Regions from separate parts of the Homo sapiens genome. Here all the other regions are linked to region 1. The links come from fine-mapping of genetic effects on gene expression. A gene starts in region 1. Each other region holds a variant in brackets. All regions are shown on one strand. Distances are from middle to middle.

Region 1 (6,544 bases):
CTTGAACTCCTGGCCTCACATGATCCTCCTACCTCAGCCTCCAAAGTGCTGGTTTTACAGGCATGAGCCACCACACCCGGCCAAGTTGTAACCTTTCTGGGTCTCAGCTTCCTCACCTGTAAAATGCAGTTAACCCCACTTCTTTAGAGGCAGAATGAAACAATAGAATGATGTAAAGAATGAAACATCTCAGCATGATGAACAGTATTCTCTTCTCTGACTCTTTAAAGAATAGAGACTGTTAGCCCTCAGAGGACATCTAGGATCAGCAATGTTTAACCAAGTTATTCTTTTACCCTTACCACGTCCCGTCCTGCCAGAGCCAAGGCTTCCACCAAGAAGACAAGACCTCTATACTTCAGCAGTGGGAAGCAAAGGGGGCAGGCCCATGGCTGGGAGGCAAACCCAGGTGTGGGTGGAGAGAACAGAAACATACCCCAATTATAGGCAGAGAAGGAATCTGGGATCATATGGCTGCTCCTTGCAGCCTGGGAATGGGCCTCCAATGGCCACAGCCACAACCAGGCATAGTTCTTAAAAGCTGATTTATACTAAAGTATAATGGATTGGTATCAGTTTTCATGATTTTCATGACATCATGAAAATAAGTCATGAAAATCATGACTTATCATGATTTTCTTTTGAAAGAGGGGATGAGCAGAAAGCCAGAGCCCTAGGCCTAAAGGAAGAAGGGGCTGGAGATAAAAGTGATGTCATGTTTTTATAGAGGTATGTTCAAACTGGATTTCAATTACCCCACAACCATAACACTACACCCCAACACCTGCCCCCCCACCCCCAAAAGCCCCACGAAACTAGAATCAGTCCTAAGGTAGAGGTTATTTCAGCTAACACAGTCCTCCTAGACTATACCAGAAGCCAGCTTCTCAGAGGTGAGGCCAGGTCAATGGTAGAAGCAGGCTTCCTTCCAAAATAGCACCCAATCCCTCCCCATAGCAATCTGGCCAACACTATCCACTACTCTTGACTAGGGGGAGGATAAGGGGTTTGCAGGTTGAACAACTTGGCTAACCTGGGTCACTTCAACTGTTTTGCCAAAGAAGCATCCCCTGAAATCCTGGTGGAGAGCATCTTTTCAGAGGCTGGAAGGCTCTAGTCAGCACGCTGTGGGGCCATGGTCCTGCACACAGCACACCACTTCCCACAGCCATGAAACAAGAGCACTGGACTCACACTGACAGGGCCAGGACCTGGCTCAGACACTTGTTGTGTGACCTTGGGCACCTACCATACCTGAGCCTCTTTCCCCATCTCTAAAATGGGGAGGGCAAAACTCTCAGCGTTTTTGGAATAACCATGAAATTGGCTGCAAAAGTGCCACAAGACAGGACCTGTTGCCCAGTAGGCACTTAATAAGTCCGTCTTCTCTCTGCATGAAGAAAGTGAGTTCTTACGGTATTAGAGTCTCCAGGGCATTGCACAGGACTACCCTGGAGACCGGAGGCCCACTTGTTGGGTCGACTGCCACTGGGGAGGGGGAGCAGGACAGAGTAAGTGCAGGTGTCAGGGAACCTGGCACAAACACTGGAGGGCCAATTCGCCTCTGGCTTTTCTCCCGTGGGACCAGCCCACAAGGGGCCTGGCTGGTGACTTCATCCTTCACCAAAATCATTGTAGACTGTAGTTAACAGGCGACAATCACAGCAAGAGAGCCGGCACACTGCTGTAGGCCTGGCGGGGCCCTACAGGCTTCCAAATAAAAGCTCTTTCCGCTTTAAGAACCCAGGCCTCAGAATAAACAATGTGGAAGGAGGCACACTACTCTGGTTTCCACATCCCCTCATCCCCATCCAGTAAAGGCCGTTCCCAGCTCTGCCAGTGAGGCTGGCGGTGAATACAATTTACCCCACCTGCCCCGTCTGGCCCGGCAGCGGCTTAGACGCTGTGGGCAAGATCCCACCTCTCCCCGGGGCCAGCCAGGCACCTACAGGGTGGGTGCCGCGGACACCCTGCGGGGGTGCTCCTGGGCCTGGAGCGAGAGCGGGCTACTGGGGATGCGGGAGACGCGATGCAGAGCGGACAGTGCCGCGGCCCCTCGGACCACTGCCACGACCCCATCCCGACTGGGCTCCAGCCCGCGGCCAGCCAGGCCACTGACATTTGGCCCAACTTAACTTCCTGTTACTAAAGAGGGAGGGGACAGGGGAGGGGGAAAAGGGCGCCCAGTGAAGAGCTGGAACGGGGCGTGCAAGGCTCGGAGCCCCAATCCTGGGAAGTTTGGGGATGGTCTTCTGCCAGGTGACAGGCAGCACTGCAGGCGCGTCACTCCCACCCCGTTTTGGCGCTTGCGATTTTCTAGGCTTGGAACTGCAGGGTTTGGGTGTTGCGGAGCGGAGTAAGAGGTAGTTCGGCGTGCCGGTGGGAGGCTTTTATTGCGTTCTAATTGGTTCAGAGGCCGGCCAGGGCCGCCCCGGGCTTCGTCGCAGCGCCACCTGCTCACTGTGCGCCCCGCCGGGTGGGTTTGAGGCGGGGGATGCTGCGGCCGCACCTGACCCTCCCGGGCGTTGGACACGGCGCAGAGTCCAGCCGAGGCTGGCACGGTCCCCACCCGCGCCCGCCCGCCCTCCCCACCCTGAGGCCAGCGCCGCCCCCGCCTTACCGAAAGTCGCGCGGGCTGCCCGGCCCCGGGTCAGGCCTGCCTCGGCCCTGGCCGCGGGCGCAGCGATCGGGCCCCGCGGGCCACTGACAGAGCTGGGAGCGAGCGAGGCGGCCCGGCGCAGGCTTAGCCAGCCGAGCGCCTGCGGTTCTGCGCCGCGCGGTGGACCGGGCTGGGGAACGCCCCCGACAGCGGCGCGGCCAATGACAGGACAGCACGGAGCCCGCCCCGCCCCCGTGGGGCCGGCTGTCACCGCCGCTGCCGCCGGCGCACGTGGGCTGTAGCCCGGCCCAGAACGCAGGGAGTGGCCGGGCGCTCCCACCCTGACCCGCACAGGGCGGAGACCAGGGGAGGGCTGCTGGGAGTGGGGCGTGGTGGCGCTGCGAGATGAAACCCCCGGTGTTGGTAAGCGGGTATCAAGGGAGCGGCGAGGGCCTGGGCCTCACGCTTCTTGGTCTAGGCGGCTGGAAAGCAAGACACGGCATCCCCTTTTGGACATGGGGGAGCAGCATGGCACTTCTAGTACCGACTGTGTACGTCCTGTGGACCTCCCTCTTTGCTCGGCTCCTTGACCACCCTGAGCTTCCGCAAACCTCCTTGCTAGCTAATAGGATCTTCCCCTCACCTGGCCTTGCTTGGCTAAAGCTAGTGGGAAGGGGGCGGTGGTGCAGACTACCTGTGTTACCTTGGTCAGATCACCTAAACACCCTCTACCTTTGGCTGTCATATCCCTATCTTAATCTCTGCTCTGCCCACCTTCCCGGGTTACCCTTACCCCCCACAGCTCCAGAGAGCAACATTCACAGACAACACAGTGTGAATGGAGTGGGGCCTAGTGAGCAATCAGAAGCACTCTGTAGACTATAACTACTGTAAAACACCTTGTGTTTAAACGGCTCTTGTAGCAGTTATCATGAAATGGGGATCTCCATGGGCAGGAACCATGTCTGACTCACCTCTGGAACCCAGGGCCCATCACAGGGCTTGGCCCGGTGTAAGCATCAATAAGTGTTCTTGGAACTGAGCTACCTAGGCAGAGGAAAACAGGCAGGCTTGAGCAGTGAGAAACAGTATTGTGGCTCCAGGCTGCTGGAATTTCCCCAGCACAAGACCACCTCCAGGAGACACCATGTTCCCTTGCCAGACAAGTGCAAACAGAACAGTTTGCCTCCCCAAACCTGCAGATTATTATTATTTTTTCTCTACTCTACTTCTTGCCATGTGATCCTACTCTCAGCCCTTTGGTGTTTACCAGGTATTGTCCTACCTGGCAGCTCTCTTAGCTCTCTCTTCAGAATTCAATCAACTTCCTGTAGATGAACTTTCCAGCAAAAGCTGTTCCTACCCAGTTTGCAAGGCCCAGTCAGCTTGTACTCTCAGAGGGCCAGCACTCCACTCTGATGGAAATCTGCCTGTGATGCCAGCCTGGGGAGTGCCCTTCACACGTGATCTCATCTAAGCCTGGCTTGACAGGTATGTATTGTATCATCATCCCATTTCACAGATGTGGAAACTGAGACCAGTGAGGTAAAGCAACTGGTCAACATCACATGGTTAGTAAGTATCAGAGTCCGGATTTGAGCCAGATCTGGTTCCAGAATCTACATGCCTAAACACTATGTGCTGGGGCCTCTACAGCACTGCCCATGCCTCTAGGGTACTTGACAGGTCAAGTCTAACCCTGAAAGAGCTGCTCTAGGCCTGACCCACTCCCAGTCCATCCAAACAGTCTGTCAAGCTCAGGCCAGGGCACTGTAAGGGAGAGGAGACTCCACTGGCCTGGCCCTACCTTATTTAGAAGAGTGATACAGGAAACCCAAGGCAGTGAGGAGCTTCAGGAAGCAGTGTTACATCTGTCCCCACCTTAACTACACTGGACATAAAGCCTCTTGCTATTGGCCTGGACCTGAGACACCCATGTGGTGGATAGAGATGGAGACAGAGTCATTCATTCATTTAACAAACCCTACTCCGAACCAAATGTGGTTCCTGCACTCATGTAACTTATAATGCAACAGATGAATAATCAGAAGTACACAATGCTGTCCAGACATGGTGGCTCAGGCCTGTAATCCCAGCACTTGGGAGGCTGAGGTGGGCAGATCACCTGAGGTCAGGAGTTCAAGACCAGCCTGGCCAATATGGTGAAACCCCGTTTCTACTAAAAAACACAAAAAATCATCTGGGCATCATGGCACATGCCTATAATCCCAGCTACTCAGGGGGCTGAGGCAGGAGAATTGCTCGTACAGCGAGACTCCATCTCAAAAAAAAAAAAAAAAGGAAGAAGAGGAAGAAGAAGAAGAAGACCACAGTGCTTTGGGAGCTGTATTCTTTATTACTCTTTTTTTTTTTTTTACAGTTTTATCACCTTACCAATAGCACAACATTCTCCCTTCAGATTAAAACAAGCTTAATGCTATTTCAGGAGCACTGTGGGCCAACCAAGTTTAACAAAGATAGCATTGCTCAGCACAGAAGTTCAAGCAACTTAAAAATTAGAACTTACCAATGCATTCCCAGAACCTCTGCCTCCTCTCCCCTACCCTACTCCCAATCTTTTTAACTCAGGGGGCTCAGATAAGAAAGACTCTTGCTAGGTGGGTGCATCTGAGGGCTGAGAGGTGAGCTTTTCCTTGGACGCAGGGCAACCTGGGAACTGAGAAGGGTTAACTGCATGGAGGGAGATAAACCTGGGGACTTCTTGAGCCAGTGGCCAGAGCCACTCACCACCTCACACAAGCCACCCTTGCTGACCATCTTCCTGGAGAGAGAAGAGGAATGGGTTAAGGATGTCACAACTCACCTTCCTCTGGACTAAGCAGTCACCATGGGATGTCCTGCTGGGCTGTGACTATGTCTAGGAGTTATACAGCTCAGCTCTTCAAATGAAAGATCTAAAGTTAGGGCAAACTTTAGAGGAATATTTATCGAATCCCTTACCTAGCAGATGAAAGAAAAGAAGAGGCCAGGCATGGTGGCTCATGCCTGTAATCCCAGCACTTTGGAAAGCTGAGGTGGGTGGATCACTTGAGGTCAGGAGTTCAAGACCAGCATGGCCAACATGGTGAAACTCCGTCTCTACCAAAAATACAAAAATTAGCTGGGTGTGGTGGCACACGCCTGTAATCCCAGTTACTTGGGAGGCTGAGGCCAGAGAATTCTTGAACCCAGGAGGTGGAGGTTACAGTGAACCGAGATCACACCACTGCACTCCAACCTGGGCGACAGAGCAAGACTCTGTCTCAAAAATAGAAAAAAGAAAGAGAGAGAGAGAAAAAAGAAGAAGGAAGGGAGGGAGGGAGGGAGAGAAGGAGGGAAGGAGGGAGGGTAGAAAGAATAAGGAAGAAAGGAAGATAAAGAAAAGAAAAAGAGGCCGGGTACAGTGGCTCATGCCTATAATCCCAACAGTTTGGGAGGCCGAAGCAGGTGGATCACCTGAGGCTAGGAGTTTGAGACCAGCCTGGCCAACATGGTGAAACCCCATCTCTACTAAAAATACAAAAATTAGCTGGGCATTGTGGTGTGCATCTGTAATCCCAGCTACTCAGGAGGCTGAGGCAGGAGAATCACTTGAATCCAGGAGGTGGAAGTTGCAGTGAGCCGAGATCGCACCACTGCACTCCAGCCTGTGCGACAAGAGCAAAACTCCATCTCAACAACAACAACAAAAAAAAAAAAAAAAAAAGAAAGAAAAGAAAAGGAAAGAAATGGAGGCCCAGAGATAGAAGGATGCTTCTGATGGTCACAGAGTGAGTGAATAAGTGTGTTCCAGGCATGCAATGTCCCTTTCTCACTCTTAGCATGACAGGCAAACTAACTCAATATCTTTATGAAGCAGGCTCAATAGTCTATATTTAATAGCCACCTCTTCCCCAGGCCACTTTTCCAGGATGCTGCTTGTGGAGGTTGTCTGGGAGATGCAGA
Region 2 (4,000 bases), 88 kb before region 1:
AATTATTACCCAGTGGGGAGCAGGGCAGAACCAACACCTGCAGGAAATCCATTGTATAGATAAGCTCGGCGGTGTTCAGGCCTCCACGTTAGCACAGAGGAGAGACAAACGCCTCATGGAAAAATCAGCTCTTTATCAAGGGTCAGGATGGGGGGATGGTGACCAACTAGCCCACAGTCAGGACACAAGGACTGGGCGGCCCCAGCTCACGTGTGACTTCTGCTCCTCCCCAGGGGAACCTGCAAACACAACCCACTTCTTGACATGGTGCATCTTCCAGCCGCCCCTCTCACCAGCCTACAAGTGGGCAAGTGTGCTGGGGCAGTCAGGAATGCATAAGAGATTCAGTCCCCAGAGGGAGATGCCGAGGGGACCAAGTGCTAAGCCAGGGGTTAGCAGTCTGCAGGTTTCATTTCCACTTCCGAATCCTGCCCTTGTGTTCCTTGAGAGCTGTGTGTGCAGACACTGCAGCGAGGTCGAGTGCAGAAGCTAGCACTTGACCAGGGTGTGGCGTTCTCCAGCTGGCTTACCCACCCTGCACCTCACCTAGAAAGGACAGTTGTGAGACCTAACTGCACGGTGCCTGGCACATTCTATTTGCCAGGCACTGTCCTATTTGCTTTGTGTGTTTCATCCTTGCAACTACCCTATGAAAGTGTTATGATCATCCCCACTTTATAAGTGAGGTAACTAAGGCACTGAAAAGTTAAGCAACTTGCTCCAGGCACTCTTATTAACTCTCTTTTTGAGTAAAGAGGGTAAGAAATGTCTTTAAAGTCACATAACAAATAAGCTGTCAGATCTGGATTTTAACCCAGGTACTATTGGTCTAAAGTCTATGCTCTTACCGGCTTGACTGACAGTGAAGCCCGACCTCAGTGGTGAGGTCAGGATGAAGTGAGAGGACTTGGCTCCTTCCCTGCATTGAGCACACTGTGGCCTCCTGAAAGGAGCTGGGGTTCAGGCTGGGTTCACAGGGGCTCTGCAAGGAACGAGCAAGCCAGGTCCAGCCTGAGCTTCATGTGCTTCCGCAGGGTGGGAAATCATAGGCTGGACAGAGCTTGAGCCTGTGCAAGTCACACTGGCAGGTGCCACCACAGTGGGAGTTTGGGCTTGGATAGTGCAAGCCTCCTTTGGTGAGGGTGGCCCTGGCAGCAAGCTGGGCATGGGGGAGGTCATGCATGGTGCTGTCTTCCTGGTAGCCGCAGTCCTCCCAGCACACTGACCTGCAGGCCAGCTCCCCAGGGCAGTGCACTGGTGCCAGGGACGTGCCACCATACTTCCTGGTGTGGCTCTGCAGCCTCCCTGGCTCTCAGTACCAGCCACTTATCTGAATCCAGGCAGGAAGCCCCTGGCTGTTACTGGTTTACCGTGAATAAGAACAGCTTGGTTCAGAATCGCAGGATGGAGAGTTTTCAAATTCAAGGTGCCACCCACCTGCCAGAATGTGTGTGTTGGGGGAGGGCTTGCAATAGGGACCTGGCTGCACAGCCTCACCCCTGCAGGGCAGTGCTGGGGTTTACTCATGAGAGATGGGGTTAACACTTACTGCCTGCTTATAATGTACAAGAACTGTGCTAAGCATGTTTTAAGAAATGCATCTCACTTGATTCTTACAGTAACCCTGAATTAGGCATATTCATCATCATTTGGCACATAGGAAACTGGAGCTCAGGAAGGTTAAATGACATAGCCGTGGTAACAGAACCAGGGTGAAAACCTAACCTCTGATTCCAGGGTACATGCTCAAAATCACCTGAGGTTCTAGCTGTGGAGGAATCTCTGAGAGGGGGTTGGCCAGTAGGGGCTCCCCAGGGGAACTTCAAGTGCTGCTCTGGGAAAGGAGTTACATCTCATCTGACTTGACATGGCCCTGACATCTCCAGACTCTCTTCTGTATCCAGTTATTCCTGAGTAACAATTACACACCACTTATCAATCTTAGAAATTTACAGAAATAAAATGGAAAAAGGTATCCTATGCTTTGTACGTTCCCTAAAAAAACCAACTAATTCCTCTGAGAAACATTCCGTTTCTCTCTGTTCTTCCCTTCCATCCTGAGCCAGTGCTCTCCTCCTCCATGACCAACTGTAACCAGTAGCTGCAGGGTCTGGATTTTCAGGGACAGTTTTATTCGCAGACATTCTGCCTTTTGGCCTCAGAAGTTCGTTCACACTGCTGCCTAGTTTAGAAGTTCTAAGCACAATCCTCAGGGCTTGTA[C/A]CTCTCTGGGTAGCGGTTGGGTCTCATGGCATCTCCCCATTTAACACATAGGTTCCCCGAAGTCAGGGTGTGAGGGCCACCCCTGTACCCCTGCCAGCAGCAGAGTCGAACACCTCACTTGAGATCTGAAAGTATGGAGTGAACAGGTCAACACAGTCCCATCTTTGTTGTTGCCTGTGCATCTCTGTTGGGAAGACCAAGAATAATAATAGTATTAATAATAGCAATAATGAAAACAAAGCTACCGCTTATTGCCTGCTTATAATGTACATGAAGTGTGCTAAGCATACTATAAGAAATGCATCCTGCATCGTTCTTACAATCACCCTGAATTAGGCATGTTCATAGCCATTTGGCAGATAGGAAAACTGGAGCTCAGGAAGGTTAAATGACTTGGCCATGGTAATAGAACCAGGGGAAGAACCTAGCCTCTGAGCCCATACTCAAAATCCCAATCCTATATTAATCCTTCCAGGTTTCCATAAGTGTTATGTGGCAGAGCATCTAAGATATGTAAAGGACTGGTGAGATGGCTCTGGGGATTACAGGCTCATGTTCCCAAACCTCAGGAAATTGGCTGGGAACTAGAGAAGAAGAAAAACAGATACAATGAATGCTGGATTGTTTGGTATTACCTCTGACTACTTTAGGAATTTAGAGAAGAAACAGATTAGTGACTTCAGTCAAGAAAGGATCCCTCCAGGAGATAGACCATGAATGGAGAATTGAGGCTGAAGATTTGCAGAAAGAAAACAAATGGCATGCTGAGAAAGAGGGAGGTGGTTTGCAGGGCAGTGGCCAGTGAAGTGAGGGTCAGGGGTTGGTGGGGAAGGTGAAACCAGGAGAGTAGAGAAAGAAAGAGAGAAAGAGAAAGAAAGAGCCAGATCGTGGAGGGACTTGGATGGCAGACTGAAGAGTTTGGACTTTATTCCTCCCCTTTGGATTTTATGAGCTTAGAATAGGATGGAGGTGCTACTTTAGGACAATTGGTTCCAGAGCAATAACAAAGATGGTAAGAAGAGAGAAAAGAAACTAGAGGTAGAGAGGCAGTCAGGGCAGCCTTTGAAACAGTTGACCTACTTTCTTGACTCTCTCCTGCCCTGCAGTTGCTCAGGCACCCTTGCTGCTCCTCCTCATCTTCCTGTCCTCTATACCTGGAAGTGCCTGGGGCTCAGCCTTTATACCCTTCCCTTATTGACCCTGACACCATCTACTTCCATGACTTTAATTACCATCTACATGTTGATGGTGCTCAACCCTGAATATCCCACGGAATCCAGCCAACTGTGCACTGACATTTCTATCTGCTTCAATACGCATTACTCACATAACAGATCTACAACTGAACTCTTATTCCCTCCCTGCAAAAACCTGCTTCTCCCCCATCAACATGGTCTTGGTAAGTGCTACCTACTTTTCTACTTGCTTAGACCAAAAATCTGGAATCAGTCTTGGTTCTTCTCCTCTTACCTCACAACCAATCCACCAATAAATCTTGTTTACTATCTTCAGAACAGATATAGAATCCAATCAATTTTCACCGGCTCACACGCTGCCTCCTTATCCAAGTCATGGCCATCTCTCCTTTGAACTGATATCAGGGCTCCTATCTGGTCTCCCAGCTTCCACCCTTGTCACTTTGCAGTCTGTCCCCATACAGCAACCAGAGCAGTCCTCCTCAAGTCAGATCATGTCACTCACTCGTAGCTCACATCGTTTCATGTCTGCCTGTGGCACTCAGAAGTCAGAATCACAGGATGTGGCTAGGCCTTAGGACCC
Region 3 (6,544 bases), 60 kb after region 1:
GTTGGAGTGCAGATGGGACAGAGGCGCACAGGTGTGCAGAGTTTGTGCACACCCCCAAGTGCCACTGTGAATTTAGGCCAAAGGGTGCTCTCCCCAGCTACCTGCCTGGAGGCCTAGTCAATCTCCCGTCCAGTGTGCTCATGTAAATTAGCATGTCTACCATGTTGATGATAACCCTTAGATGTAGGTGCCCTTGAGCAGTGCTCAACCTGACTTCCTGAACATGGGCCACAAGGCACCATCCTTTCAAGGTCTATGAGCTACACCTGAGTGGCAAACCCCACCTGCTGGTGGGCTTCAGCTCCTCAAGCAAGACCTTCCAGCCCTGCTCAGCAGAAGCCCGGAGATGCAGCAGAGACTTCAGTGACTTCAACAGGCAGGGGCTGAGAAGGCAGGATCCACCCCAGACCACAGCATCTCCAGAAGTAGCTCCCTGGGCTCAGACCTGTCAATTAAAGGCATTGAAGATAAAAGAGGGAGGTTTCAGTAAGCAGCTGGGCAAGATGAAAGCCCAAGTGCTGTTTTATGGCCTCCTAATGGGAAGATTCGGATGCACCTTATTATGCCCAATCAAGTAATTATAATTACAGAAACCCGGGAGACTCAGAGGCGGCCTCCTGGCTTTGGCTTTCACTCCCAACCGGCCTTGACAAATCACGATTTCTCATCTCCTCGCCCACAGGAATCTAGGAACATGCTAATTGCCCCAGAGTTTGGCAGCAGGTCCCACCCACTCCTGGGCTAGACACCACGCACCTGCCCCTCCCCAGCCCAGGAGCCAGCGAGATCTAGCAGTGTGTGTCCAGCCAGAGCCTGGAAGCCAATGGGCAGAGCAGCCCCCGCCCTTCAGCCATGGGTAAACAGAGGGACACTAGGAGTGGGGGCGGCCACGGCTAGCGGGATGGCCAACTTGCAAGGGCCAGCTCGACTGCTGCTGCCTGCTGCACACACTGCATTTTGTTGATTTTATTGTTGTGCTCCCCCTATAAAAATATGAGCTCCATGAGGAAGGGTTGGTATTTGTTTCCCATTGCTGCTATAACGAGTCCCCGCAAACCAAACTTAGTGGCTTAAAACACAGAAATGTATTATCTTACAGTTCTGCAGGTCAGAAACCTGACTGTGCTCAAATCAAGGGCAGTGCTGTGTTCCTTTCTGGAGCCTACAGAGGGGACTCCAGTTCCTTGCTTTCTCCAGCTTCTACAGGCCGCTTGCTTTCCTTGGGTCGTGGCCTCTTCCTCCATCTTGGAAGAAGCCAGGAATCACATCACTTAGAACCCCGTGTCCATCCTCGCACCTCCTTCTCTGACTCTCCTGCCTCCCTCTTCTAAGAACCCTTGTGATTACGTTAGGCCCACCTGGATAATCCAAGGCACCCTCCCTCTCTCCCAGTCAGCTGATGAGCACCTTAATTCCACCTGCAACCTTAAGTCTCTCTTGCCACGTAACATCACATAGTCAGGATTGCAGGGATTAGGGCATGGACGTCTTTGGGGGCAGGGAGGATCATTATACCTACCACAGGGCTAGTGTCTCTTGTTCCCTGCTATAGCCCCAGTGACTGGAACAGTGCCTGGTTCATAGTGGGCCCTCAAGAAAGACGTGTTGAATAAATTCATGAATAAATACATGAATAACCATTAGGAATACTATTTAAGGCTGGGTACAGTGACTCACTCTTATAATCTCAGACCTTCGGGAAACCACGGTGGGAGGACTGTTTGAACCCAGGAGTTCGAGGCCAGCCTAGGCAACATAATGAGACTCCCAGTCTCTACAAAAAATAAAAAATAAAAAATTAGCCGGGTGTGGTGGGGTGCACCTCTAGTCCCAGCTATCTGGGAGGCTGAGGTAGAAGGATCGCTTGAGCCTGGGAGGTAGAGGCTGTAGTGAGCTATGATCACACCATTGCACGGGGTGAGACCCTGTCACACACAAAAAGAGTAAATTTAATATTATAGCAAACAGCTATCACGCTTACTAAGTGCCAGGCACTGTTCAAAGTGCTTTACAAATATTTACTCATTTAATCCCCAACAGTTCTATGACGTACATTTTGTTATTATCTGCATTCTACAGATGAGGAAATTAAGGCACCAAGGAGGAGCTCGCCCAAGGCGCCACAGCTAGTGAGTGGTGAAGCTGGGATTTGCTCTCACGTTTACCGAGCCTACCTATTATGCATCCGGCCCTGGCTGAGCATGTTACATTTCTGATCTCATTTCATCCTCAGAGAGGCCATAAGGGATGTGGGTGGAATAGGAACAGAATTAACAGGCACAGAATTAAGTCACTGGAGCAGCTGAGGAACTCTGAGAGATTCTGTGGCTCAGCTGGGGCAATGAATTGTGTATTGCTTTTTGAGCCTCCTTTGCTAATTAGACCAGGGCCCACCCCCGCAAGCAGACCACAGGTGTCTGGGTTCCCACCATGATGTGGGGCTCCTGCCTCAGCCCTTGCTCCCAGCTTCTGCCCCTAACCGTTGCAACTGGTGCCCAGGCCGCTGCAGATGGCAGCAGGCCATGACCTTCACCTGAAGCTGGACCTGGCAGGTCTGCCTCCAGGAAACCTCTTCCCCAAGGGACAGGAACTGGCTTCAAACCTCACCCAGAGCTCAAGTTGCTTTGCCCTTTTCACTGATGACAACCGTGGGGACCCCCATAGCTGGGCCCTATTCATATTTTGCACATCCTGGAGCTGTTTGCTCTCTACATGCTGGCCTCGGCCACCAGCCCTGTGACAAGCTGCCCCTCTGTGATAAGCTCCCCACCCAGAAGCATGCCCCTAAGACCACAAGCACCAAAACCTGCAGGAAGCCCCTAAACATGGCCCCCAGTTCCCTCCAGCTCTGCAGGGAGAGTGCTGCTCAGGCAGGGAGGGGGAACTGCGCTCTCTCACTTGCATCTTAACCTTTGCAATCAAAGCCAAGAGGAGGGAAACTCTTGTGCCTGCCAGCACAGTGGGGCATCGCATTTTCTGTTCCTGCCAGCACATTTTTCTA[G/C]GTCAATGTCAGATCAGGGAAATCCAATACTGCATGTCCCAACGTTTTATTTGAAAACAGAGAAGTTGCTTTCCAAAATAAATAGCGTTTACAAGTAAAGCCTGGAGAAGCCTCTGTCAGAAATGGACTCTGGGCCCAGGCAGGATAGACGTTTCCTAGTGGCTTTGATTGATGTAAACCCAATGTCAGCCCCAGCTCCAGGCCTAAAAGGAGAGGCTGGGCTGAGGAAGAACACGTGTATATACACATACGTATTGATGTGTGCCCGTACATATGCATTTGCATGTATCCTTAAGGGTCTCTGGGTATGATTAGCATGAAGAGTAAGTTGGGGGGCTTATATGTGTGTCCTTATATGTGTTTATGTGTACAGGCATGTGAATGTGACTGTGTGTGCCTGTGTATGTGTGTGATGTGACACCCAGCCCTGTTTCTCAGACACCCAGTCCTCTTTCTAGACACCCCCTTCTTCTCCTCCTTGTACCTGTTCTTTTTCTTTTTTCTTTTTTTTTTTTTTTGACACAGAGTCTCGCACTGTCACCCAGGCTGGAGTGCAGTGACGCGATCTTGGCTCACTGCAACCTCCGCCTCCCAGGTTCAAGTGATTCTCCTCCCTCAGCCTCCCAAGTAGCTGGGATTACAGGCCCAGCTAATTTTTTGTATTTTTAGTACAGACAGGGTTTCACTGTGTTGGCCAGGCTGGTCTTGAACTCCTGACATCGTGATCTGCCCGCCTTGGCCTCTCAAAGTGCTGGGATTATAGGCGCGAGCCACCGCACCCGGCCCCTGTTCTTTTTCTTAACTGATTAAGGGGCTGGGGCTCAGATCTTGACACACTGTGACAGGCATTTCCTCTGCTCTGTTTCTTCTTGGTGCCTACCCACTGCTCCTTCCCAATTTGATGTTGACTTGTTGTGTAGACCAATGGAGTCCAGTTTTTGGTTACTGTGTTAGGACCCAGCAATTTGAGCCCAGGCTATGTTAACAGCGCTCTGTAAATGGTACCATGCACTGCCCCGGAAGGCCGCTGGTGTCACTTCTCGCTGACGTCACCCTGACTGCAGGATCTCCCTCACAGACCTCCGACTTCTGCTGTCAGTGCAATCCTCCCCAGGCCTTGCCAGTTTCCATGCTCAAGGCCCCGCCTGCCTGATGACCACCTGTCTCATTAAACTTAAGCAACTCAGCCTGGCTTCCAAGATCTGAGTATCTTCTTAGCAAATTCTCTTCTCAGGAAGTGTGTCCCCTTCCTGAGCACCTCGGCCAAGCTGCCCCATACTGTGTTAGCTCTGGCCCCTCCCTTACCCACCTCTGAGCATTTCTTTGCTCACGCTGTTCCTCTGCCCTCACACCATTCCCTGCTGCCACTTCTCTCTCATTGGCTCTGCCGGTCCAAACTCTACGCTGTTTCAAGACCAGTTCTAATCTCACCCACTTTCTCTACGAGGACTTAGAAGAGCCTCCCACCCCACACTACTTTCCCATCAGACTCTGGCTCACGGGATGACACACTGCCCTGTGTGTTGCCTAAGAATTGTTTTCAGGTTGCTTCATGGGCCTTATCTTGCCTTCTGACCTAGATTGCAATCTCCTTCTAGGCAAGAATCAAGCCCGGTGCAAGAATCAAGCCCGGTGCTGCCTTTGAACGAGATGTGGAACCCGACACAGGTCTGGACACAGTATAGCCAGGGGATGAGGGCTTGTGGGTGAGTGCACGCAGAAAGGCACACTCGGCTGGGGCGGTAAGGCCGCAAAACTGTGTCCTAGGCACTGCGTTTTGTGATTTATCTGTCTTAGCTCATCTAATAATAACTGTGGCGGCAGGGTGATATTATCCCCAGTTTAGAGATGAGAAAACAGAGATTGAAAGAGATTAAGTGACTTCTCTGAAGCCACAAAAGTAGTCCAGTTGTCTCTTGCTAACTGTGGGGGTTTGGTTGCCTGATCCCCTTGAATACCAAAGTCTGCGGATGCTCAAGTCCCGTGTCAGCCCTGCAGAGCCCTTGCATAGAGGACACTTTGCTTGTAACCAGCAAAATCAGGGGTTAATCCTAGGTGGGTCTGACTGCCTTTCTCATAACCTTGTAACAACCATATCCATGGGAGGCAGCATGCTAACAGTGAACTCTCTGAAATTCTAAAGCACACCCTACCCACAAGAGATCAGAGCAAGTTCTAGGGTGGCACTGTCCAACAGAACTTTCAATGATGGAAATGTTTATTTCTGTGCTGACATGAGAGCCACTGGCCACATGTGGCCATCGAGTACTTGAAATGTGGCTAATGAAGTAAAGAACTGGATTTTAAATTTTATTTTATCTTAATTTGTTTATTTATTTGAGACAGGGTCTTGCTCTGTCACCCAGGCTGGAGTGCAGTGGCGTGATCTTGGCTCATCGTAGCCTCAACTTCCTGGGCTCAGGTGATTCTCCCACCTCAGCCTCCCAAGTAGCTAGGACTATAGGTATGCACCACCATGCCCGGCTAAGTATTTTGGTAGAGACAGGTTTCAACAAGTTGCCCAGCCTGGTCTCAGACTCCTGGGGTCAAGAGATCTGCCCACCTCAGCCTCCCAAAGTGCTGGGATTATAGGTATGAGCTACCACCCCCCAGCCTGCTTATTTAATCTTAATTAAAACGTAAGTACTGTGGTCACATGTAGCTAGTGGCTTCCATATTGGATAGTGCTTCCCAACCACGTCCATGTCAAGTCAACATAGAAAATACTAATTACGCAATAATGAGACTGTTTGCTGCCAGAGGCAACTGGCTCAAGGGGTCCTGCCTTCCTGACCCCACCTAGCCTCCCTCAACAAATCTGTAGGCCACTTTAGGCACACTAGCTCTTCACAATGGTCAAGCTTCCTGCCAGCTCCCAGCCTCTGGGCCTGGAACACCAAAGTCATTGTGATCGTAAGAAATGCCAGCATAGGAGATGTGCAGGACCTTGTCAGTTCTTGCATGGTGTCCTTTCCTCCATTCCACACACAGTGCCTGGCCCTGGGCAGGGGCTGGGGTAAAAAGAACTCAGAGCCAGCCCTCACTAAGCACTCCCACGAGGCCATCTGATTCATATGCCCCAAACTGTTCTTTTTTGGCAGCACTTTGGCGCCCCCTCCTGGGCATCCTGCAGAGTTCAGGTGCGCATAAATTTGCCAGGAGGGGACAAGGACTTGGCCCTGGGACTGACCGCAGGGCTGTCAAAGACTTCCAGCCCCCCTGGCCAGCCAAGTGAGGGAATGCCTGCCCTTTTTCCAGGCCCAACTGGGGCAGCTCTTTTTCCTGCAGGGAAAAGGCACTTTACTGGCAGCCCTGGGGAAGAGGCAGGGGAGGCAGCTGAGTCTGGAAACGGGAGCATTCCAGAGCCCAGGCCTCTAGGCCCCTGTGCACTCTTCACACTGTGCCAACCCTGGATTTTCAGAGAGAAACCAGAGAGGATGGCTTGGCAGAGGCCCTTTTGGAGGTAACTGGGAAGCAGGAGAGGATGTGAAGTCAAGGCTGGTCTCTGAAGTGGAGGAGTTGGCCACAGGGAGAGAGGAGATA
Region 4 (6,544 bases), 29 kb before region 1:
TTCTACCACCAGCTTGCGCTATGGGTGTGCTTGAGTCATGTCTCTGGGCCTCAGTTTCTTTACTAATAAACGGGAGAAGTGGATTAAAGGATCTGTCGTTCTTTTCAGCTTTAATACTTTACAATTGTAAATGTTAGAGACAAATCCACCTTCCCTAGCCTTTCCCCTTTTCATATTGGTTGTCCATCTGAGGTATCTCTCATCTCTCACTGAGCAACCTTCTACCAATGCTATTCCCTTTATTTCTCCAAAGTGTCTGGTCACCCCTGATCACAAGGGTTGGCCAACTTGGGGCCATATTCTTAAGAACATATTGACTACCCTCTGATCAAAAATTCAGTACAATCCAGGTACCCTGGGGCATCAAGGACTTGAAAATCCCAACAACCTTTAATCCCATTTTCCTCTGATACCAACCAACTTTCACTCCTTAGATCTCTAAGAGTCTCACAAGGTTAGAGTTTTCTCCCATGCTGCTTGGCAGAAGAGTAGGGCAACAACAGGAAGTTCTTATCTGCACTCTGGCATAACTCAGGGTGGCGCAGGGGAGAGATGGCAAAGCTACAAAGATCAGGATGAAAGTGCTTACAGAAGCAAGCTCTGACCACATGAGGAGGAGGTGACCTGGAGGAGAAGACAGTGCTAATCACAAGGACAAACTGAGAGAGACACTGAGGACCAGGACCACAGAAGTCAAGGAGACTTCTTTAAGATACCACCAAACCTCCACCCCTCCCTGAATTCCTGAATAAGAAATCTGAAGGCCCCTGAGGTTCTGTGACTCGCCCAAGGCCACATAGCTAAGCTGTGGACAGTCAACACTAGAACATGGCTCTCTTGGTCTCAGCCCACTCTTATTTCTACTCTATTCTGTTGACCTCAAGAGTCTAACAAGGCCAGCTGGATCCCTTGCAGACTCGAAGAAAGATGACCCAAGTATCACTTAGGGAAAGAGCAGACCCAGCGGATATTTTGATAACTGCCTCCCGGAGCCCATGAATTCTTTCCCATCTTGACATGGTTTTCTTGTTGTTTCTCCAGCCCTTGCCACAACATATGGAAAAGTTCAGAGGTCAGTGAGAAGGAAGAGGTAGGCTCCCCTAACTGTACAGAACCCTGCATATCTAAGATAATACACACCTGTCCTTCTTCCTCAGTCTAGAGAAGGTTGGTGGGGGAAGGGTAGAAGGAGGAGATGAGTGAACTGCCTGGAAGGCTGACCTGTTTAGGCCACAGGTATTATTCATGGGCAATTAGATGGGTCACTGAAGGTCTGTGACAACAAACAGTAGGATCTGCTTCTCCCAAGGACCTCTCATAGATCAATGTCTAACGTAGCATCTCAATGTCAGGAGGAGGAAGCTCCGAGTAAAAGTCAAGGAATTAATTATTCAGTGTGCATGACCTAGTTCCCAGAGGTATGGCTGGGTGAGAAGAGAGCTCACCAGTTCCTTATCATGGCAAGAAACTCAAATATTCCACAGGGTAGTGTTCTCTTTGCTGCCAAAGAGGGTCCACTTATGGTTGAGAGTGGCCAAAAAAAAAAAAAAAAAGAGCCAAAGTTCACTCATTCCACAAGTGTTTATTGAGCTCCTCTTAGGTCTCAGGCCCTCCAGAGATTTACTATGGTTGGAGTTTAGCAGAGGAGAGACATGGAATTTATAAACAGTAGGACTGGGCCATGTCCCAGCTCAGCCCTTAGACAGCTGCATTGCCTTGGGCAGGCTACCGCCTGCCTAAGGCAAATTTCTCATCTGTAAAATGGGAGAAGTCCACCTGCTTGATCATGAAGATGAAATGACCTTTATAAAACATAAAGTGCAAAGAAATATGAAGTGTAAATAATAATGATACAACATGATACACTTCCCCTGCCCTAGAGAAGTATATAATTTGGGAATGCTTTGGAAAATAATCCAAGGTACCTATTTGGCAAGCATCACATTCTCTGTAATTTGGGGAAATTTTATGTTTCACCCTGCCAATGGAGATGAAACTGGCAGTCAGTCCCAGTCCTCAAGTCCAGGAAGTTGCAAGAAAAGGTAGAATAAACACAGAAGAGTAGCCAGGACCCACCTGGCCCTGGGTCAAGCCTGGATTGAATGGATGAGCCAGGAGGGACCCAAGATTCCAAAGGGAAGAGAGAAGAACAGCACGTGTGTTCAACAGAAACAGAACAAAACAAAAATTCATTTGAGGGCAATAGGATTGAGCCAGCCAGAATTGCTCACACTCCCCTCCCTACACATTTCAGACAACATTGGAATTCACTGTTCATTGCCTGACCCTCCTCTGTGGACAAACTCTGTATTCTGTTTCTCCAGAGAGGGGACAGTTTCTCAGGCTGTGGCAGACTGGCCAATCAGCTCTTTGCCTGGGTCTTTCCCCAGATACTAAGAATGAGAATTCCTGGAGCAGCTTTCCCTGAGGTCCAGTCAACCCCTTGTCATCCTGCCATTCAGGACTCCCGTGGACTCCTCACCCCACGTGATCCCTCAGCGCCCACCAGGCCAGCTGCCAAATGCCCTGACATGCACGCCGGCTGCCCCTCCGCCGGAGCCTCCGCCCATGCCCCAGCATCTTGGATTGGGCCCTGATGCTCTCCCCTCACCCTCACCTTCATCCTCCCTCCTCCCACAACTAAACTGAGCCTCTTCAACGCCCTGCCAAGGCTCACATGTCCAGGAAAGCTCCCGGAGAGAAGGGAGGGTTTTATTCATCCCTATGTTCCCTCTGACTCATGGCTTTCTGTAAGTTCTTCACCCTCCTGTAAACACAGATATATGGTCCCAAAATGTTCTCTGATTGCTGAATACAGGAGCAGGGCAGAGGAGGAGGGAGGAGGGGTGCCAAAACGCCAGACAGGAAGTCCAGGGCCTGCGTTTCCATTCTCCATTGGACACCAGTGAGCCCTGTCACCTTGAGAAAGAATCTTCAGGCCAGGCCTCAGTCTCCCTGTTTGGCAATGAGGGGTTTACTCTAAACAACCTTTCTAATTATAAGGTTACAGAAACCAGGCTAGCCTGGGACACAGAAAACGTGAGTCCTGGGCACTTATTAGCCTACCACCACCTGTGGCAGGCTATCTGACTCCTCAGACCCCAGCCTCCATGTCTATAAAATAAACAAGGATAATGTGACCACCCCACCCAGGGCACAAAGGTTCCCATAGGACACTGTTTGTGATGAAGCTTTGTGGACCATAAAAGCCCTGATCAAACCTCAGGGATGAGACTCCTTGAGTCCACAAACAGCTGTTGGTCACCTGTGATGTGCCTTGTACTGTGCCTGCCGGGAATTGCTGCCTGGCTCAGACAGGAAGGCGGGAGTCTGGTTCCTTGCCCTTGAGGCTCCCACAGCCGGTAGGTGGGACAAGCAGGTGAACAAACCCTAACTCAGTGGTGTATCTGAGGCAAGAACACAGCGCTAGGGGAGTGCAGAGGAGGTGGTGCTGACTCAGAGGGAACAGCGCGCCCTGGGCACAGCAAGCTGCCCCAGGATGGTGGGAACATCCCACACTTTCCTAAGCCTAGGACCAGCCCCCAGGAGCTACTCCACGGTAAACAAGATCCACCACTGTGACTTACTCACTGGATTCTCAGGC[A/G]TCACAGTGGTTAAAGTCTTCTCTTTCTGGGATGAGACACACACGGGTTGCCATGTTCCTTTAAAAACAAGAGCCCAACAATTAATGTCAGTGACATCATCGTAGCTTATGCCTCCTTTCTAGTCTCCTCCAAGAGGTCACGCATGCTTGTGCACTCTGCCTTGTGGGACACTTCACCCAGCAAGAGGAAATGGACAGAGAATCTCTCCCTGGCCTCCAACAAGTTTTGCACGTGAAGAAAGGAATAGCAAGATGGCTAAACAAATTCTATTGTTGGCTGCAGTCAGGGCACCCTAAGGGCTTATCAGATCTCTACACAAAGACTTTGCTGAGGAGTAGGAGGGATCCGGAAAACAATGCTTTATTCGCTGCTTTAGTAAAAACAGAAAGTGTCAGAATTTTTAAGTGTGAGACACAATGAAAGTAAATCAAGCAGGTGTAAAACTGGATAACAAGTCCCCAGTGTGAAACGGGTCCCATTTTCTAACACTGAGTAAACTAGGGAGTTATGAAAGTGCACCAGCTGATCATGGCTGAGTTTCCTAAACTAATTTTTCTCTTGGCTTCCAGTGACGACCCACATTATTTCATGACATCCTATTGCTTCTGCAGAAAATGCCTCTACACCTGTTTGGAAAACGAAGCCCAGAGTTACAAAATATTTCTAATGATTTACTTCCACATTAAAAAATAAATCAAAATATTTAAGAGGTAACCTCAAAGGGACAAAAACTAACACAGGTGTGAAATTTGACATCTATAAGAGGCAATATTCATACTCCAGGGAGGTATACGCACACTTTGTTCAACAGAGTGGTGCCCCCCACACACACACTCACACACACACACACTCTCTCTCTCTAGCACACAAAGAGCACACATTGTTAGAGTGCTGGGAGATGGGACTCACTGTTCAGAATTCTCAGCCCGTTAATGGGAGACAGCCTATGAAGTGCTGTGTACTGTCATGGGTGGAGACTAGACCTGCTTGATCTCAGTGGCTCCTCACAGACAGCAAACAGAGGCTTACAGAACAGATGGCACTTGCCAAGCCCCTACAGCAAGGCAGGATTGGAGCCCAGGACTGGCTGCCCCTGTGCTCATGGTCTTTCCCACCAAGCTGAGGGAAAGGTGTACTGGACATCAACTCTGATTTAGTCCTGGTGGGCCCACACACCGGGCGAGCCTGGCGAGCTCCAAGGGCGGCCACCTGGGCAGAAGCGGCAGCCCTGCCCGCCCGTCATCATCATTACCAAGCCCACACCCCTCGGGGCTTGTGCCAGCTGACAAACAGGCTGGCCTGCCTGGGCCACATTCTATCAGCCTGTGCTGCAGGCTCGGTGCTGCTGCTTCCAGCCAGAAGTCAAAGCGGCTAGAGGCCTTGACTTGTCTGCCCCCTGCTTCTCAAGGGAAGCTTCTGGGATCTGTGGGTGGGGAGCTGGACATCCTGGTACAGAATTCCATCATTGGTCCAACCAGAGTTTCAGAAGCCAGGGACCCCGCCATGCTCTCTAGATCTCAGGAACAGAAGTCCCTACCCACCCTAGGGCATTACGGAGACCAGCAGCAGGGACACGGGGCTCTTTAAGGTTCAGCTTAGGCTGTCTTCATGGTGGGTTGGAGGCAGGTATGACTGGACCAGGCTACAAGGGCTGACCACTGGTCAGATGCTCACAGAGGCCTGGGCACACTGTGTCCAGCCACTCAAAGGACCAACTCGTACCCTTTGTCTGACCAACAAGCCAAATACACTTGAGCTCCCTGTAACACCAACAAATTAGAAGGTCCTAGAGCCCAATACCTTCTGGCCTTTGAGGGTCAGGGCCTCTGTTCCCTCATCCATAAAATGAGGAGCTTGATACAATTGGTGATTTCCTCACCTAGGACCCCATTCAGCTGCCCCCCTCCAGGTACCCTGACTTTTAGAGACACCGACAAAACTACTTAGTTGTTATAAGAGGGAGGGATTAACCTGTGTACAGGTATTGCCTTGGGTAGTTAACACTGCTACCTCAGCTAATCCTCCCAGCAACCCTGTAAGACAGGTAGTACGGTATCATTACAGAGGGGGAAACTGAGGCATGGCACAGCGAAGTGCTTCACCCAAAGTCTCGATTAGCAGAGACCACAGCAGCTCTGGGACTCCCGATGGAGCTGGCCTGAGTCCACGCCCATGCTCACTCCCTGACACTATATTTTCCTTTGTAATCAACCAGAATGAAGAAATGCTGTCTCTCCTTGGACTTGCCATCAGGCCAGTGCCAAGCAAAGAAGCACGAGGTCTCTGGTCCCTCATGGGCCTGATTTGGGTGATACAGGGAAGGTTTCCTGTGAGATTGAGTGGGACATGACAGGCCCAAGTGACAGGAACTCCGGGAGCCTTCCTCTTGGATGTTTTCAGAGTCTAAGCTCTTCCCTGAGGGACCCCAGCACTTGGACAGGGCCTGGAGCCTCCAGGCCCTCAGTAAATATTTGTTGAATGAAGAAATGAATAAACTCAGAGTTTCAATGCACTAAAGACTTGTTCAAGAACCATCTGGTGTAGGTCGGTGTGAGATAGATCGAGACCAGCTCAAACCTCACAGCCGACCCCTCAGCAGCATGCAGCAGGTAGGGGTCTCCACATCCCAGCCCCTCCCCAGACTGTGGACAAAGACTCAGGTGCTGAGCCAAACCAGGGGAGCTGCAGACAGAGCAAGAGAAGTGTCTAAATGTGCAGGCTACCCAGTGAGGCAGTTAAGAACTTGGGCCCTATGATCAGTCAAACCAAGGGTCCTATCCCAGCTCTGTCACTTTAAATTAGTTGGGTGGCCCTAGGCAAATCACATCATCTCTGTGAGCCTCAATTTCTTTTTTTAAAATGTGGATGATGTTAGCACCCACTTCATAGGGCTTCTCTGAAGATTAAATGAGATAATCCTATAAAGGACTTAGCCCATT
Region 5 (4,000 bases), 150 kb before region 1:
ACATGCAGGACAGACGCCCACCGCAGCCTGAGACCGCGAGTGTTGCCTAGGACAGCTCCACGGTGCTTGGTGTGTTGTTTCTCGTTAAGAGTGTGTTGGTGATTATCCTGCTGCCCCAGGTACAAGAGTCAGCAGAAATGTGTGCTTTAAGCAGAGTCACAGGGGCCTGGGGCTGAACTGAGTCATTTCTCAAAGATATCCCTGCCTGGGATGATGATGGCTCTAATTGAAGCTCTGGCATCATCTGGGGCTTTATGAGCCAAGGGAGATAAGAAGAGCCACAGCAAAACCCTTGGGTCTACAGTGCAGGCTGCAACCAAGGCAGCATTTGCTAGAATATTTGTGATTATGTGTTCAACCTACAGAGCATGTGTCAAGCTTGGGATGAGGCCTGAGAGTAATTAAGTTTTTTAAATCCCTCCAAATAATCACCTATGGTTTTGATAAATGACATTAACAATCTTTACATTAGAGCCAATTTAAGAAGGCGCTGGTATGTATGAGCTTTTTGAGGCTGCTCAAAAAGTGTTCTTTTCAAAGGTGACAGAGGCCCCCTCATGGTATTGTTTCATGATCAAGGTCGACCCTCCCAAGAAAGTAGGTAGCTTCGCAGACGCAACTGGAGAAGCATGCACGCAGGCAGACCCAAGGGAGAGAGGAGAGGCGGGGCATGCACTTGGGGTAGACCAGGCTGCCAGCTCCATGGGAAATGAACACAGGCATGGGTCTCAAGCTGAACACCCCCCGCCATGCTGTTAGCCAACCATGCCACCAAATGAGTCCATCAGTATGCAAGACACTCACAGTTAGTGCAACCAGTACTGCTGGCGGAGAGGACGGGGTGCGGAAAGCGGGTTGGGGGTTAGTACCACTCTTTGAAAATTGGCAAGAAAACCAGTCACCTTAGAGCAGAAGTGTGTCAGCCAAGAAGTGGGTGTAGCACTGGAAGGCTGAAATGAACTGATGGCCATGGCGTAAGATTGGAAAGAGAGAGAAAGATAGAAAAGAGAGCTTAGTGTGGGGAAAAAAGGAAATGATTAACATCACGAGAAGGCACCGGAGTTGAAAATAAGGCCACGATTGAAAGAGGGAAACTTCCTCTGAAAGAGTCGCTGTTTGCTTAGGAGAGATGAACCTTTCTGGTTGTGACCAGCTACTTGTTTACGAGAGTGGATGCACACAGTTTGCATCTTGCTCCCTGATATCCTCTCTGCCCCCATTTTACTCTAGCGTCTCCCATTCATTCTTGAATATGTTGCGGAGGCCTAGAGGCATTCATCCTCGGGGGTCCACCCCTGGGTGTCGGTGCTGCCCACCAGAAAGGTTCAACATCTCAGAGCGTACAAACATCTCAGATTTCTGACAGGCACGCCCTGTCTCGCCACAGTAATTCAAACCAGTCTCCTTATGGCTGTACACGACAGTCAGAGATTCCGACTCGGGCTTCATGGAACACTCCACAAAGCATCTCAGCCTATCCTGAGCTGAAGATAATCACAATAACATGGCCGTTCACATCATGACCTCAAAAATTTACTTTCTATACTCAAACAAAAGGAATCAAGGGTTCCTCCCACCATGCTGAACATTAAAATCCCAGCAAAAATTGGAGAAAACACAATGCAAGTCATCGGACTGAGAACAGTGCCAACAAGGACAGAGGCGCCAGTTCCCACAGAGTTGGCCACGGCCATGCCTCTGTTTTTCCCAAGGATTTCAGGGAAGTGTTTGTAGAAATGCACCTCCTTCTTCCCGCCCCATAGAAACTGTCATCTCAAAGCTCTCAAAGGTTCTGACTCCTCACCCACACCCAGGCACACCTCTTAGTTAATCCAGAGGCATCTCTAGTGATAACTCCACAGAGCTATCTTGGGCCCAGCAACTCCAGATACACTGCGCACCGTAGATGGCCTTTCTCTGGCGGCCCCTTGATTGTTCAGCCAGACCCTGCAGCTGTGTATGTCTAGGCAGCGTGGAGTAGGGAGAGCTGAGGACTCTTCTAGATACCCAGAGTAAGAACACAGGTGGACCTGCATGCTCATTTTTACCCTTACTCATGCATATGTCCTTTGGATCAG[T/C]CCATAAATAGCTTCCACTCCCAGCCTTCCCTGCCAGTCAAGATATGGTAGAGCTTCCCCTGGAGGTCAGACCCATTCCTTTCCCAGGGCAGTGTGAAATTGGTTTCTGTTTTGACCACATATGTGTGGCAGCGGAGCAGCTAAGCAGTCAGGATGTCCACAGGCAATGCTCACTGGGCAGGCCACGCTTCCCAGCAATAGCCTGATGTGCTAACAAACCCCCTCAGTCCCAAAGGACACCACATAAGTGGACAGAGTCTTCCACTCCACTTGGCCTGACCAATATGGACCCTGCACAGCCTTGGCTCAGCCTGCAGCCCGGGCTGGGGGATCCGCTGGGAGCCACAGGGGCTAAAATGCCATCAGTTGAAAGAGCTCATCTTTGGCACTGCATCAGCTCCATGGTCAAATGCCAATGGGCTTTCCCTGCAGTGCCCATTAGTGGGAAGGGAAAATGCATGTTTGTAGAATCTGTTGAAACCCCACGGTTCTTTGTCATTTGGCTGTGAGTTGGTATGGGGGGGAAAGCCTTTAAGCTACTGTTTAACATCAAAACAAGGGAGCAAAACAGTCCTCCTCCCAGGGGGACAGATAACAGCCAACCACACACTGCTCCGTGCTTCTGTAAGTTGAATTCTATTCTGCCCTTCTACTCTCTTCTTCTAAAATAATTATGCTTTCGTGTTGTAAAAAGTATCCTGCTGCTGACAAGTGGCATCTGGGTACCTAAGTCAAAAGGCACTGGTCAGGAGATGGCACACTCATTTTCATGCGTGTAAAATCTTAAATCATCCACTTTGCAGGCAGTGGCTTTGATAACTCACTGCAGTGTTCAAGGGGTTTATAAAACTGGTTATAAGCTTCAAACCCATGTTTAGAAAAATTGACACTCATAGAAAAAAATGCTTTCTCTGGGCTAATTAAAATTAAAAAAATTGAAATGTAAACCCAGAAGTATGGCTCACAAAGCTATAGAAAAGATCCTTCATATCATCCCTGGCCCTAGCACCGTGAGTAGATGTTCACCCTGATAAGGCCAGGCGGAGGTGGCCCATGTGAAATTCTTTGGCTTTGAGCTAATTGCTTAGAGAATGCTAGGCTTCCTGGCCAGAGCCTGAGCAAACTGCAAACGCACTGCCATCTGAAGCCTCCCTGGAAATGTGAAGGCACTTTGGGGCAGCCAGCCATGTCAGCGGAGCTTGACTGGGAAGCACCTGAGCACCCAGTTGCAGATGCTCTCGAGGGAGCCCTCAGATTCCCTGTACATGGCTGCCAGGACCTCAGAGAACGCCCAGAGGAGTGGCAGCCCCAGGCTCAGGAGCTCGTACATGTAGCAGTAGTTGTAAGCATTGTCCCTGATATGGAGGCCAGCAGCTTGCAGGAGTCCCTGCATCCAGTTACACAGGTCCCTCGGCAGCCTGAGGGGCCAGCCCAGCACCTTCCTAAAGAAGGAGGTGGAGATACCTGGGGGGCTGCCTTCCAGGGTGCCAATGGCGGCCACTGCGCAAGAACTTTCGGTGGGAGTGTCTCTCCGAGGGGCTTCCTGCTCTTGCCATGTTGCCTCCTCCTGAGAAAGAGATGGAAATGAGGGCATTTGTCTGTAAGTCTTCCAGAGGACTACTTCAACAAAGCCAACAGCCAATACAAACTGAACTCGCCAGACCCTGCAACCAGCCCCCACAATAATCTCAGCCCCCCGACTCATGCTGAAGCCGGTGCTGAACACGGGCACTTTTCTAGGGGCCAACTGACCATAGGAGTCACGAGCCTTCAAAAATATGCATGCCTTTTGATCGGCAATCTCACTCCTAATGATATACATCAAGTAAATAATTTGAAATATGGATAACAACATGCATACTAGCATACACTGTAAAAACATTTGTAAGATAAAAAATTCCAACGACGTAAAGATCCAGTAA

Which allele goes with the higher level. Positions count from the first base shown, and alleles are read on the strand shown. Sizes are in standard deviations (SD) of each study's normalised expression. Not every link is listed here.
For the expression in cerebellar hemisphere of the gene that starts at base 2,757 in region 1, allele C in region 3 goes with a lower level than allele G (moderate effect, 0.60 SD a copy in GTEx).

What was found.
Region 2: its variant is fine-mapped to the expression of MICAL2 in memory regulatory T cells (Schmiedel 2018, PIP 0.95). The same link has a PIP of 0.9 or more in T cells.
Region 3: its variant is fine-mapped to the expression of MICAL2 in cerebellar hemisphere (GTEx, PIP above 0.99). The same link has a PIP of 0.9 or more in cerebellum.
Region 4: its variant is fine-mapped to the expression of MICAL2 in whole blood (TOPMed, PIP above 0.99).
Region 5: its variant is fine-mapped to the expression of MICAL2 in whole blood (INTERVAL, PIP 0.98).

The regions. Positions count from the first base shown.
Region 1 is chr11:12,106,803-12,113,346 of GRCh38, reverse strand. MICAL2 (microtubule associated monooxygenase, calponin and LIM domain containing 2) reads right to left here and starts at 2,757. Exons shown (of 28, transcript NM_001282663.2): 1 at 2,621-2,757. RefSeq lists an enhancer at 2,148-2,851 and a silencer at 2,394-3,063.
Region 2 is chr11:12,195,892-12,199,891 of GRCh38, reverse strand. The region is part of intron 3 of MICAL2 (microtubule associated monooxygenase, calponin and LIM domain containing 2); the gene reads right to left. Among named protein-coding and RNA genes, the nearest start is that of MIR6124, 34 kb to the right of the region's middle. The variant C/A (reference allele first, on the strand shown) is at 2,222.
Region 3 is chr11:12,047,124-12,053,667 of GRCh38, reverse strand. All of the region lies in intron 1 of LINC02547 (long intergenic non-protein coding RNA 2547), which reads right to left. Among named protein-coding and RNA genes, the nearest start is that of LINC02547, 20 kb to the right of the region's middle. The variant G/C (reference allele first, on the strand shown) is at 3,002.
Region 4 is chr11:12,135,508-12,142,051 of GRCh38, reverse strand. It overlaps MICAL2 (microtubule associated monooxygenase, calponin and LIM domain containing 2), which reads right to left. Exons shown (of 28, transcript NM_001282663.2): 2 at 3,592-3,662. Among named protein-coding and RNA genes, the nearest start is that of MIR6124, 25 kb to the left of the region's middle. RefSeq lists enhancers at 2,053-2,594, 2,595-3,138, 4,869-5,369. The variant A/G (reference allele first, on the strand shown) is at 3,605.
Region 5 is chr11:12,259,440-12,263,439 of GRCh38, reverse strand. MICAL2 (microtubule associated monooxygenase, calponin and LIM domain containing 2) reads right to left here. Exons shown (of 28, transcript NM_001282663.2): 26 at 3,543-3,645; 27 at 903-960. The coding sequence ends at 920. Among named protein-coding and RNA genes, the nearest start is that of MIR6124, 98 kb to the right of the region's middle. The variant T/C (reference allele first, on the strand shown) is at 2,079.